Linked DNA regions of Homo sapiens. The protein of the gene in region 3 purifies or fractionates together with the protein of the main gene of each other region. This does not show direct contact. Each region holds a gene or a part of one and is shown on either strand. Other genes may lie near its edges. The genes, in order: KATNIP, IFT172 and IFT80.

The links.
Region 1: the proteins of IFT80 (region 3) and KATNIP purify together in Homo sapiens (tandem affinity purification; one large-scale study listed by IntAct). This does not show direct contact.
Region 2: the proteins of IFT80 (region 3) and IFT172 purify together in Homo sapiens (affinity purification with mass spectrometry; one large-scale study listed by BioGRID and IntAct). This does not show direct contact.

What each region holds. Positions count from the first base shown.
Region 1 is NC_000016.10:27,735,016-27,738,744, reverse strand, and holds part of KATNIP (katanin-interacting protein), read right to left. Parts: intron 3,251-3,729; exon of another isoform or gene 3,155-3,250; intron 1-3,154. UniProt on the Homo sapiens protein: May influence the stability of microtubules (MT), possibly through interaction with the MT-severing katanin complex.
Region 2 is NC_000002.12:27,458,625-27,462,353, forward strand, and holds part of IFT172 (intraflagellar transport protein 172 homolog), read right to left. Parts: intron 3,213-3,729; coding exon 3,135-3,212; intron 2,894-3,134; coding exon 2,645-2,893; intron 2,470-2,644; coding exon 2,391-2,469; intron 1,206-2,390; coding exon 1,085-1,205; intron 899-1,084; coding exon 754-898; intron 245-753; coding exon 155-244; intron 1-154. UniProt on the Homo sapiens protein: Required for the maintenance and formation of cilia. Plays an indirect role in hedgehog (Hh) signaling, cilia being required for all activity of the hedgehog pathway.
Region 3 is NC_000003.12:160,280,726-160,284,225, forward strand, and holds part of IFT80 (intraflagellar transport protein 80 homolog), read right to left. Parts: intron 1,889-3,500; coding exon 1,753-1,888; intron 90-1,752; coding exon 1-89.

The DNA.
Region 1 (3,729 bases), on a different chromosome or scaffold from region 3:
CTCAAGGCAGCCTGTAGGTAACTTCTGGACTCAGAACAAGTTCTCCGGATGATTTCTTCACACGACGGGGTGCAGAACCATGCCGATGATGGGATAAATTCCAAAGCTCTCCACATGACATACAGTAACCTTCACAAATGGTCCCCACCTCGCTCTCCTCTCTCACTGCCAGCCTAAATGCCCCTATGTCACGCAGGTTCAACTCTCTTCCTTCCATGCTTAAGATAAAATCACATCTCCTGCTACTGTTTCACTTGTGTCATCCTCTTTACAGCAAAACTCTTTTTCCAGCTTTATCGGGGAATAGAATACACACCCCATACAATAAACTGTGCATATTTAACGGGTACAGCTTGATCAGTTTTAACATGTGTCTACGCCAATGAAGCCATCACACTCAAGAGAACAAACGTACCTATCACCCTAAGGTTTCCTCGTGCCCCTTGGTAACCCCTGTCTCCCCTTCCTCCTTCCCTGGCTCCAGGCAACCACCCACTTATGGTCCCTCCCTATATACTGATCGTCCTTTCTGGAATGTTTACATAAAGGAATCATGTTGCATGTAGTCTTTTTTGCTCGGCTCTTTCAGTCACCATAACTGCTCTGAGATTCACCTGTGTTATGGGAACTGATAGTTCCTTTCCTTTCTACTGCTAAGGAATATTCCATTGCAGGGCCCCCCGCATGATCTGTCCGTCACCCCGTCAGTGAATCTCTGAGTGTCACTGTCCCCGTGGGCTCCTCCTCCCACTACCCCTTGTTCCTCCTCCCGTTGGGCTTCTGCCTCCACCTCCACATGGAACCCACCTGGCCCGGGCACCTGTAACTAGGGTGACGGGCCATCCTAGTTTGTCTGGGACAATTCTGATTTATATCTGTTATCCTGGTGTCATTACTAATGACTCTCAGAAGTGTCTGGTTCCTAAAGTAAATTACAGGGTCCAGCTGACTGCCATACGCAATAGGAATTTCTCCTAGGAGTGGGTGGGTGTGGCGGCTCGGCAGTACTCGGCAGCTTCCCCTCCTTTGCGATGACTTTCCTCCCTGGGGCTTGTGTGGCTCTGCACCCACCTGGCTTTCCTCCTGCCTCGCTGGCTGAGCCTGCCCGACTCCTGGGTTGCTTCCTTTTCTTCGGCTGCACTTTGAACGACTAGGCTGCCCAGGGCTCAGTCCTAGGCCTCCCGAGTGCTCTTCCCTTGCTCTCCAGGTGGTCTCATTCAGGTCCCAGGCTCCCAGTTATTTTCATCTCCAACCCTGACCTCTCCACCAAGCCCCAAGTGACTGCTTGGCCTCTCTTCCTGGATATCTAACAGGAATTCCAATATAAAATGCCCAAAACAGAATGCTCTCTTTTTTTTTTAAGAGACAAGGTCTTGCTCTGTTGCCCAGGCTGGCGTTACAGTGGCTCGATCAGGGTTCACTGCAACCTGAATTTCTGGGCTCAAGTGACCCTCCCATCTCAGCATCCTGGATAGCTGGGACTACAGGTACACGTCACCACGACCAGCTAATTAAAATAAATTTTTTTTTGTAGAGACGGGGTCTCACTATGTTGTCCAGGCTGGTCTTGAGCCCCTGGGCTCAAGGGATCCTCCTGCCTTGGCCTCCCAAAGTGCTGGGATTACAGGTGTGAGTCAATGTGCCTGGTGTGCCTGAAACAGAATTCTGAAATCACTTTCTCCACACTTAGTCTTAAACTATCTTAAAAATGGGTCCATCATTCGAGCGGTTGCTAAAAAGCTTGCCGTCCCCTCGTCCCCTCTCACTTTCTCACTCATATCCAGTATGTGGGCACGTCCCTCGGCTCTCTCTCCAGAACACGCCCTGGAGCTGACCTCCTTGCCCGCGTGTGCTGCTGCCTGGGCCACCAGGGTCTCCCCCAGAGACACCACCATCGCCTCCTAGTTGGTCTCTCTGCCTCCACTCTGGGCTGTCTCCCCCAAACCCTGCACTCACTTCATTTTCCACACAGCAGTGAGTCTTTTTTTAACAACTGAAATCAGATCATGGGAGCCTCCTGCTTAAAGCTGCCCAGTGACTTCCTATGGCACTGACAAGAAATCCTACTCCCCTTCAGGGGTGCCTGCTGACCTCTCTGACTCCGGCTCCTGGCGCTTGCCTCGATTCCTTGATGTGGCTCAGCCTGTTCCTCCTGCCTTAGAGCCTGTGCACTTGCCTGGCGTGTTCTGCCGCAGATGCCCACAGCCTTGCTCCTTCTTCTGTTCAGGACCTTCAGTGAACACACCTCTAGGGCAGCCCCACCTCATCGGTCCCCTCTTTATCTTATTGCCCTGTTTTATTTCCTTTTAGTCTCTGAATGGTCTTGCTTATCAGCTTTTAACTTATTTATTGTTTTTCCCACTCAAAGTTAGGCTCCAAGACAGCTGAAGCCCTGCCCGTCTTGTCCAAGGGCACATTGTAGCCACCCAACAATTATTTTTGGGCCAGGCGCAGTGGCTCATGCTTGTAATCCCAACACTTTGGTAGGCCGAGGTGGATGGATCACCTGAGGTCAGGAGTTCGAGACCAGTCTGGCCAACATGATGAAACCCCGTCTCTACTAAAAATACAAAAATTAGCCAGGCATGATGGCGTGAGCCTGTAATCCCAGCTACTCGGGAGGCTGAGGCAGGAGAATCACTTGAACCTGGGAGGGGGAGGTTGCAGTGAGCTGAGATCGTGCCATTGTACTCCAGCCTGGGTGACGACAGTGAAGCTCCGTCTCAAAATAAATAAATAAATTACTTTGGAATAGCAAATGAATAAACATGGGTTTTCTCTCCTGAACAGCACTGCTGTCTCAACAGTGCTCTAAGAATGAACCTGATCAGAAAAGCGGCGGCCTGTGGGTTTCACCTCCAGATCGTTTATTTCCCGTGTTGCCTTGGCTTCTGATCTGCTCTTGGGAGACAGAATCTGAGACCCTGGAGATGTTCACCTATACTAACCCCTTCTTAGCCTTCCTGAAAGCTAGGTGAGTAGGAGCTAACAAATTTCAGGATCACTGAGTTACAGAGGTTTCCGCAGCAATTTAGAAGGAGAACTGTCCGGCCTGCGTTACGCCACAGGAACTCGGCTTCAATCCTCCAATTGCAGATGGCAGGCTACCATTTGCCGACTGTCAGAAAAGTCGATTCTCAAAGCACTCTTTTACCTGCTTATATGGATGGATTCTCTGTTTAGCAGAGGCACAGAGCAAGTGCGTGCTGTGAATTCACCGGGGAACAGCTATTTGAGAAGGACAGCATGGGCAGTTTTCAATGACTGGTTCTGCAAAATTACTGCCACAGGGATATCTGGTGAGACAGAAACACCTTCCTTTAAAGAGGTAGTGGGTGATGGGGAAACCATCTAGTCCAGCACAGTCACAAGGTGGGCATCCTAGCTTTCCTAATAGGGTGGCCGGCTTCCACAACATGGCCACCCATCTTCCTTCCCCAGTCCAGAGCCCATCTGACCTCCAGCCCTGTTCCCACCAAGACGTCTGGCGGAGAGGGAACTGAGAGAGGGAAGCAGGCGGAGGCAGGGGTCAGGCTTGTAAGAGAGGAGTGGGCTCAGGTGGAAATCAGTGGTATGCAGGGGTCACAGGGAGGTGGGAGGGTCGTACCCTGCCTGGCAGCTCTGAGCTCTGAAAGGTTTCCAGCACTCTGCAGGCCAAACAAGCCACATTCATGGGCAGATGTGGCCCAAGGATCACCAGAGTGGGGTCCCCATAGGGAATATTAGTCA
Region 2 (3,729 bases), on a different chromosome or scaffold from region 3:
CCTATGGCTAGGGATCAAAGTGGCTCAGACTGTTTTTTGGTACTCTTTGTCAGCTTTCAGGGAGCCAAGCGAAGAGGAGAAACAGGTATCAAGGAATGAGGCCACAATGCCACTAAGGCAGAGTTCTCTTATCATGAACTCCACCCATCCCTACCTTGTGGGCTTGTTCCCAACGACCAGCCTGGGTGTACATGTCTATGGCATCTTTTGTCCGATCTCCCTTAGTATAGAGCTCCTCAGCAATCTGTAGTTGATGGGAGGTAGATACAAAAGGTCAGAGCAACAGACTTAAAGCAGCTTGAATGAGGAAAGAACAAACCTTGGCTGGGATGGTGGAGAGCCTGCGATACAACCTTGTAATAATAGAGAAGAAAAGATGAGTATGGGTGTCTCATACATTCTACCATTTAAAAAGAAAGACCAGCCCCAAACAGTGGAATCCAAAAGGGCCTCACATTTCTGCAATGCAAAGCAATTTTATATCATAACTATGTTAGCATTATTCATGAAGAATCACGCTGACTGGAACACAGCTAGAGACTCACTTTATATATCTGGGGTGAAGGGCGATATCTGTGTCACACTGGAATGAAAATGGGAAAGTAAACTGTTCTCTTCCCCTTCAAGGTGATGATGCTGTTTGGAGCCCAGAAAGAAGGATCTGGTGAACTTGCCTCCACTTCCTGCTTTGGGTTCTCTCATTGTTATCCTCTACTGCATTGCCTCGTGCTGCGGAAAGGGACTCTTCCTCACCTCATACTCCTGCAGGGATGCATAGTGTTGGGCCACGAGAGGATAGTATTTGGATGCAGTGTTCCGGTCCTGTAGATCTAATATATAAATTGCCTTCTTCCACTGGCGGGCACCCAGGGCGGCCTCAATTGCCTTAATGGAGCACCTGGCAAAGTTGGGAAAGATATAAATATGTAGGATGAAAGATGAAGATGAATGGAGGTAAAAGGACCCTTTAAGCACACTTCAACCTACATTTTGAGATCTCTTCTTTAAGGCCTTGGTGTCCTTACTTGCTCCACTGCCCCTCACTTCACACCTAAATCTCCTTTACATTCCCATACTCCCATACCTGGCTTCGATGTAGTGATTAATGGCTGCATCAAGCTGCTTCTGCTGCACCAGGTGGTCCCCCCATGCCTCCTCTAGTTTCACCACCTCCACTGGGAAGGCCAATCGAGCCAGCTCTACCGCTGCCAGGGAGAGAAAAGATGCTCAGCCCAGATTTCCAGGGATGGGCCTCAGGAAAAAGGTAGGACAGGGAGATGAAGCATGGAGAATAGGTAAGAAGGGGAGGAATGGAGGACTGGAGCCAGGCATCCTGAACACACGCACCAAGAGGTGTGGGGAAAAGCAAGAGAGATCAGATTGTTACTGTGTCTGTGTAGAAAGAAGTAGACATAGGAGACTCCATTTTGTTATGTACTAAGAAAAATTCTTCTGCCTTGAGATTCTGTTAATCTATAACCTTACCCCCAACCCCGTGCTCTCTGAAACATGTGCTGTGTCCACTCAGAGTTGAATGGATTAAGGGCGGTGCAAGATGTGCTTTGTTAAACAGATGCTTGAAGGCAGCATGCTCCTTAAGAGTCATCACCACTCCCTAATCTCAAGTACCCAGGGACACAAAAACTGCGGAAGGCCGCAGGTACCTCTGCCTAGGAAAGCCAGGTATTGTCCAAGGTTTCTCCCCATGTGATAGTCTGAAATATGGCCTCGTGGGAAGGGAAAGACCTGACCGTCCCCCAGCCCGACACCCGTAAAGGGTCTGTGCTGAGGAGGATTAGTAAAAGAGGAAGGAATGCCTCTTGCAGTTGAGACAAGAGGAAGGCATCTGTCTCCTGCCCGTCCCTGGGCAATGGAATGTCTCGGTATAAAACCCGATTGTATGCTCCATCTACTGAGATAGGGAAAAACCGCCTTAGGGCTGGAGGTGGGACCTGCGGGCAGCAATACTGCTTTGTAAAGCATTGAGATGTTTATGTGTATGCATATCTAAAAGCACAGCACTTAATCCTTTACATTGTCTATGATGCAAAGACCTTTGTTCACGTGTTTGTCTGCTGACCCTCTCCCCACAATTGTCTTGTGACCCTGACACATCCCCCTCTTTGAGAAACACCCACAGATGATCAATAAATACTAAGGGAACTCAGAGGCTGGCGGGATCCTCCATATGCTGAACGCTGGTTCCCCGGGTCCCCTTATTTCTTTCTCTATACTTTGTCTCTGTGTCTTTTTCTTTTCCAAATCTCTCGTCCCACCTTACGAGAAACACCCACAGGTGTGTAGGGGCAACCCACCCCTACAAGAGGTGCCAGGGAACCAGATGGGCAAGAGTCCACAACAGTAAAGGATGGCTTATAGGTGGCTAGTACCTTTCATGAATGCGTTGCCTTTACGGTAGCACTCCAGGGCCTTCTGTGGATTGTGAATCTTCTCAAAGAGATCACCTGCCTGTTAACACATACCACATTACTATGATACCCCTACAACACAAAGAACTAAGTATTAGCTCCGAAAACAAGGGAACACCAGCAGTCAGGAAGCGCTCTGCACCCCAAGACTCCTCTGGGTAAGGGAAGGGTCCTGAGCTCTGGAGATAAGGGCTAGGAAAAGGAAGCCAGCATACCCTTTCGTAGAGTTCCCCCTTGATAAGGGCTGCAGTGATGTGTTCTACCAGCTCTGTGTTGGCTAGCAGTTCCTCTCGGGTCAGCACCAGCCGAGCAGCTTTGGCAGGGAGCCCAGCTTTGAGGTAGAGGCTGATGGCTGCTAGCCCATCCCCTTGGCTCTCCTGTAGTTCACCTGCTCGCTCCTCTTGCTGTGTGTCCATCAGCCACTGGTAGTAACTACGACGTAGCTTCTCCAGGGCTGGGTGCCCCTGGACATGCACAGAGGACAACTAGGAGTCACATCCCCCTTCCTACCCTTCTGCCTCCCATGCTTCTCCAATCCCTCTATAACAAGGGGAATCCTCCTGGGTCAGCAGTATCCTAACTCCTCACCACATCAAGTCCAAGCCCCAACCCTGTTCTGGTTTCTATGGCCTCCTTGACAAAAGGAGGTTTTTGAAATTGGCAGAACCAAATTCTGAACAACTGTGGAGAAGATAAAACAGGTACCTTGGCTTCAGCCACAGCGATACACTCATCCCAACGGTGTAGCTCCTGGTACATGCCCATGGCCTCCTCCACAGCATTCTAGGGGAAACAGGCAGAGCAGAGAGGGACACCAGAAAGATATGAGGATCAGAAAGCAGCAAGCTCTCCTCAGCCTGGCTAAGATGCCAGCCCATGAGGACCAAAAGCCTTTTAACTACTATACCAACAGAAATACTGGGAAACTAAAAGAAGCTTAAGCTTCAGGGCTCCTTATTTGCACACACCCTTTCCAAGGCAACTGTTCTTTTTCTTGAGATGGAGTCTCACTCTGTTGCCGAGGCTGAAGTGCAGTTGTGTGATCTCGGGCTCACTGCAACCTCTGCTTCCTTGGCTCAAGCGATTCTCCCACCTCAGCCTCCCGAGTAGCTGGGATTACAGGCGTGTGCCACCACTCCTGGCTAATTTTTTGTATTTTTAGTAGAGATGGGGTTTCACCATGTGGCCAGGCTGGTCTTGAACTCCTGACCTCATGTGATCCACCTGCCTCAGCCTCCCAGCGTGCTGGGATTACTGGTGTGAGCCACCACGCCTGGCCTAAGGCAACTGTTCTTAAAGA
Region 3 (3,500 bases):
GGGGTAATACCACACTATAAATCGAGTATCTTGAAGTCCACAAAGGATATTGCATGTATCGTTCCATGCCAAAGTATGCACCATTGTTCCTTAATTTAAAAAGAATGTTAATGTGCTATTAGCTTTAATATGTAAGAATTAAAAATAGATCTTTAAAATGCCTGACAAACAAAATCCCATACAATTTCTGGTAGATATGACTCTACTTTCTGATTCTATAATGGTGAAAAACACATACCAAACAATCACACAAGAATTTACAGAAATATTTGAATGCTTTACTTAGAACCCTTATATTTTTAATCTGTAAATCTTTCTTTCAGTGACAATTTAGCTGCAGCAGCTAAAGACTTGCTAATAAGTTAATCCTCTTGCCCTCAGGCCATCAAGCTCCAGATGATCCTCAGTGAGGAATACCGTCCCCTCAATATTCAAGAGTCACTCTTCTACAGGGGACCCCTAGTCTGCCCATCAGTGGGACATGACAGAGGTGAAGTCCTCCCTTGTCTCCCTTGGACCTAGCTGCATACTGCTTTCACCAACCCACGGAGCCACCCTGCCCTGACAGCTAGCAAGAGGCCAAGATCCACAGAATAACCACCATTGCCCCTCTGTCAGCAGGAAGCAGTTACAGAAGACTGACTTTTGTCCATTTTCCCCATAGAATTGGGGTCTTGGACTCTTGAGGGTGGAAATGTTACAGCAGGTAGTCAGGCAGACATGAGCAAGTCAGGAGAGGCCCCTGCCACCAGCACCAGGAATGTCAGGTGACCATCAGGTGATGGTCAGGCTGTTGTTAAGCTGTCTCTCTAAAATAATAATTGGTTGCAGCCAGTGCCAGGGAAAGGTAGTCTCTCAATATAAACACTGAAACTGGAAATCAGTAGCTTCTCAATAAGATCTCAAGAGCTAGGTGAGTGGGCTCACACATGACTAACAGGCAAAATGGTGGAGGAGTTTAACTGGTATACAAACTTCCTCTAGAAACACTGGAGTGGTAAGGGAAAAACGCCTCAAGTGAGCATGTGTATAACTTTAGTAAACACACTGTGCATGTGGCCCCTCCCAGGTGTTGGCAGGCCACTATGCATGTGGACAGCCCACCCAAGGGAAGAATTAGGGCAGAAGGGTTGCAACTCCCCAGAAGCATGCCAAAGTATAAAACCCCAAGTCAAAGATCAAACAGTGCACTTGATCTCTCAAGCTGCCTGCTTGCCCTCTACCAAGTTTACTTTATTTCCTTTCTTTCCTGCTCTAAAGCTTTCAAATAGGCCAGGCCCAGTGGCTTACGCCTGTAATCCCAGCACTTTAAGAGACTGAGGCAGGTGGATGGCTTGAGCTCAGGAGTTCGAGACCAGCCTGGGCAACATGGTGAAACCTTGTCTCTACCAAAAATACAAAAAAATTTAGCTGGATGTGGTGGCACATGACTGTAGTCCTAGCTACTTGGGAGGCTGAGGCAGGAGAATCACTTGAGCCCAGGAAGCGGAGGTTTTGGTGACCTTGATCTTGCCACTCCACTCCAGCATGGGTGACAGAGTGAGACCCTGTCTCAATAAAACACAATAAAAATTTAAAAATAAAGCTTTTTAATAAACTTTCACTCCTACTTTTTTAAAAAAAGGGTTAAATAGCTAAGAAGTATTACAAGATCAAAACATTAAAACATTTCCAGATTCATTCAAATTATTTATTACAGCAAATATAAGAAAGTTGACAATTAAAACTTAAAATGTATTAAAATTATTTTACCAAGCTTGATAATTTGTTCTTCCTTCCCAAATCGTTTCACAGAAGTGATACAGAGATCTCTATTTTTATCAATGAAAGCAATTTTTCTATCATTGGTAAGTCCTTTTTGATCCAGAGCAATTTCCAAGATTTCATTCTAAAATTTTTTTTAAATGTAAATACTGGGTTAGTTTTAGTGTTTGACATAAGATCATTTTAATTAATTATAAAATCATTTCCTTTAAGATCAATTAAATGTCATTTCCCCATTTATAATGATAAAATGTCCCTGTTAAATAATTTTAAACTGCCAATATGTTAATCGTTCAAAAGCTGCACTGAAGTATATTTGCCTGACATCCAAGGAAAAGATACCTCTTAAAATACAATAAAATAATATGTATTTTGATATTCTGTAGGCTGAGAAACACTCGATCTGTCCTGTCCTACCTTTCGTAGTCAAGGTGAAAGGGTCAGGCAATTCTGAGTATCATATGAGAGGTCTATTTTGATTAATAAGTTGCCTAACAACTATATCTTAAATATTTGTAAAAAAAATTTTGGAAATATGTGGAAATACATCATGTGTCCAGGGCCTTAAATTCTATAGATTCTCTCACATTCATTCTTGCAAAATAGGAAACAAGCTTGTAATGTAGGTATTACTATACTTACTTTGCAAATCAGAAGACTAGACTCATATTCACTAAGTGATTTTGCTCAGAAAAAGCCAGTGTCAAGTATATCTAAACTTGCAACTCAGACTTCTAACTCCAAGATCACTGCTTTTCATTTGCTAGTGAGATGAATTTTACTATAACTTGAAAATGTTTTAATATAGATTCATTTTAATTCAAACCAAGCAAGATTTATTTACCTCCTACAATGTCTGAAGACTTTGGTAGGAATTGTGAATTCAACCAGAATAATGACTACAACATCAAGTCATTGTATCAAAATGTACTATAAAAAACACTTTTTAAAGTAAAACAAAACACACATACACCTTTATCCAAATTGATGAATCAGTCATATACCAGTTCATAATACATTTTAAAAAGTTCAACTCTTTCTGGAATACCATAATTTATATTTTAAGAAAGAAAAGAATTTGGTTTCATATATATCAAGGCATGCATGAAATATAACTCTAGGTATTTTCAAAATGGAAATGTTTCAGAGAAACTGATCTTTACAATAAAGAATTGCTTATCATCGTCATCATCATCATCAGAACCTAGTGTATTCTTTTAAAAACACTGTTAAACAGATATGATTCTCCTAAGAAATTAAAAATCAAAGATGGATAGTAATTATAGTAATGCCTATGTACATAGGGGAAGAGGGGCTCCCCCACTTCATTCAGCAGGGCTTCCCCCATTTTCCTCTTGTCAAGTCCTACCACCTCCACATAGGTTCTATTCCTCCTGGGTTACTCTTTGTAGTGGGACATAAAAGCAGTTTTGTGTTCATTAGAACCGTCTCCCTTGCCCTACACTAATTAATATTCATTTACTAATACACAGACTTGAGTTCTAGTTTGGGCTCTGTTATTGGGAAGATCCTGGATATGAATTTCTTCCACATATAAAATAAAATAGATTGGGTGATTTTTCTATTATTTTATAGAATGTAAAATTTAAAAATCCTTTGTATTGCATACAAATGTACTGGGTAATTGGGTGAAGTGTGACATGTAGAAGACACTTCCATTCTTATAATTAGGAAATTATAAATTTCTTAATTTTAATTGTAAATTAAATTATTTT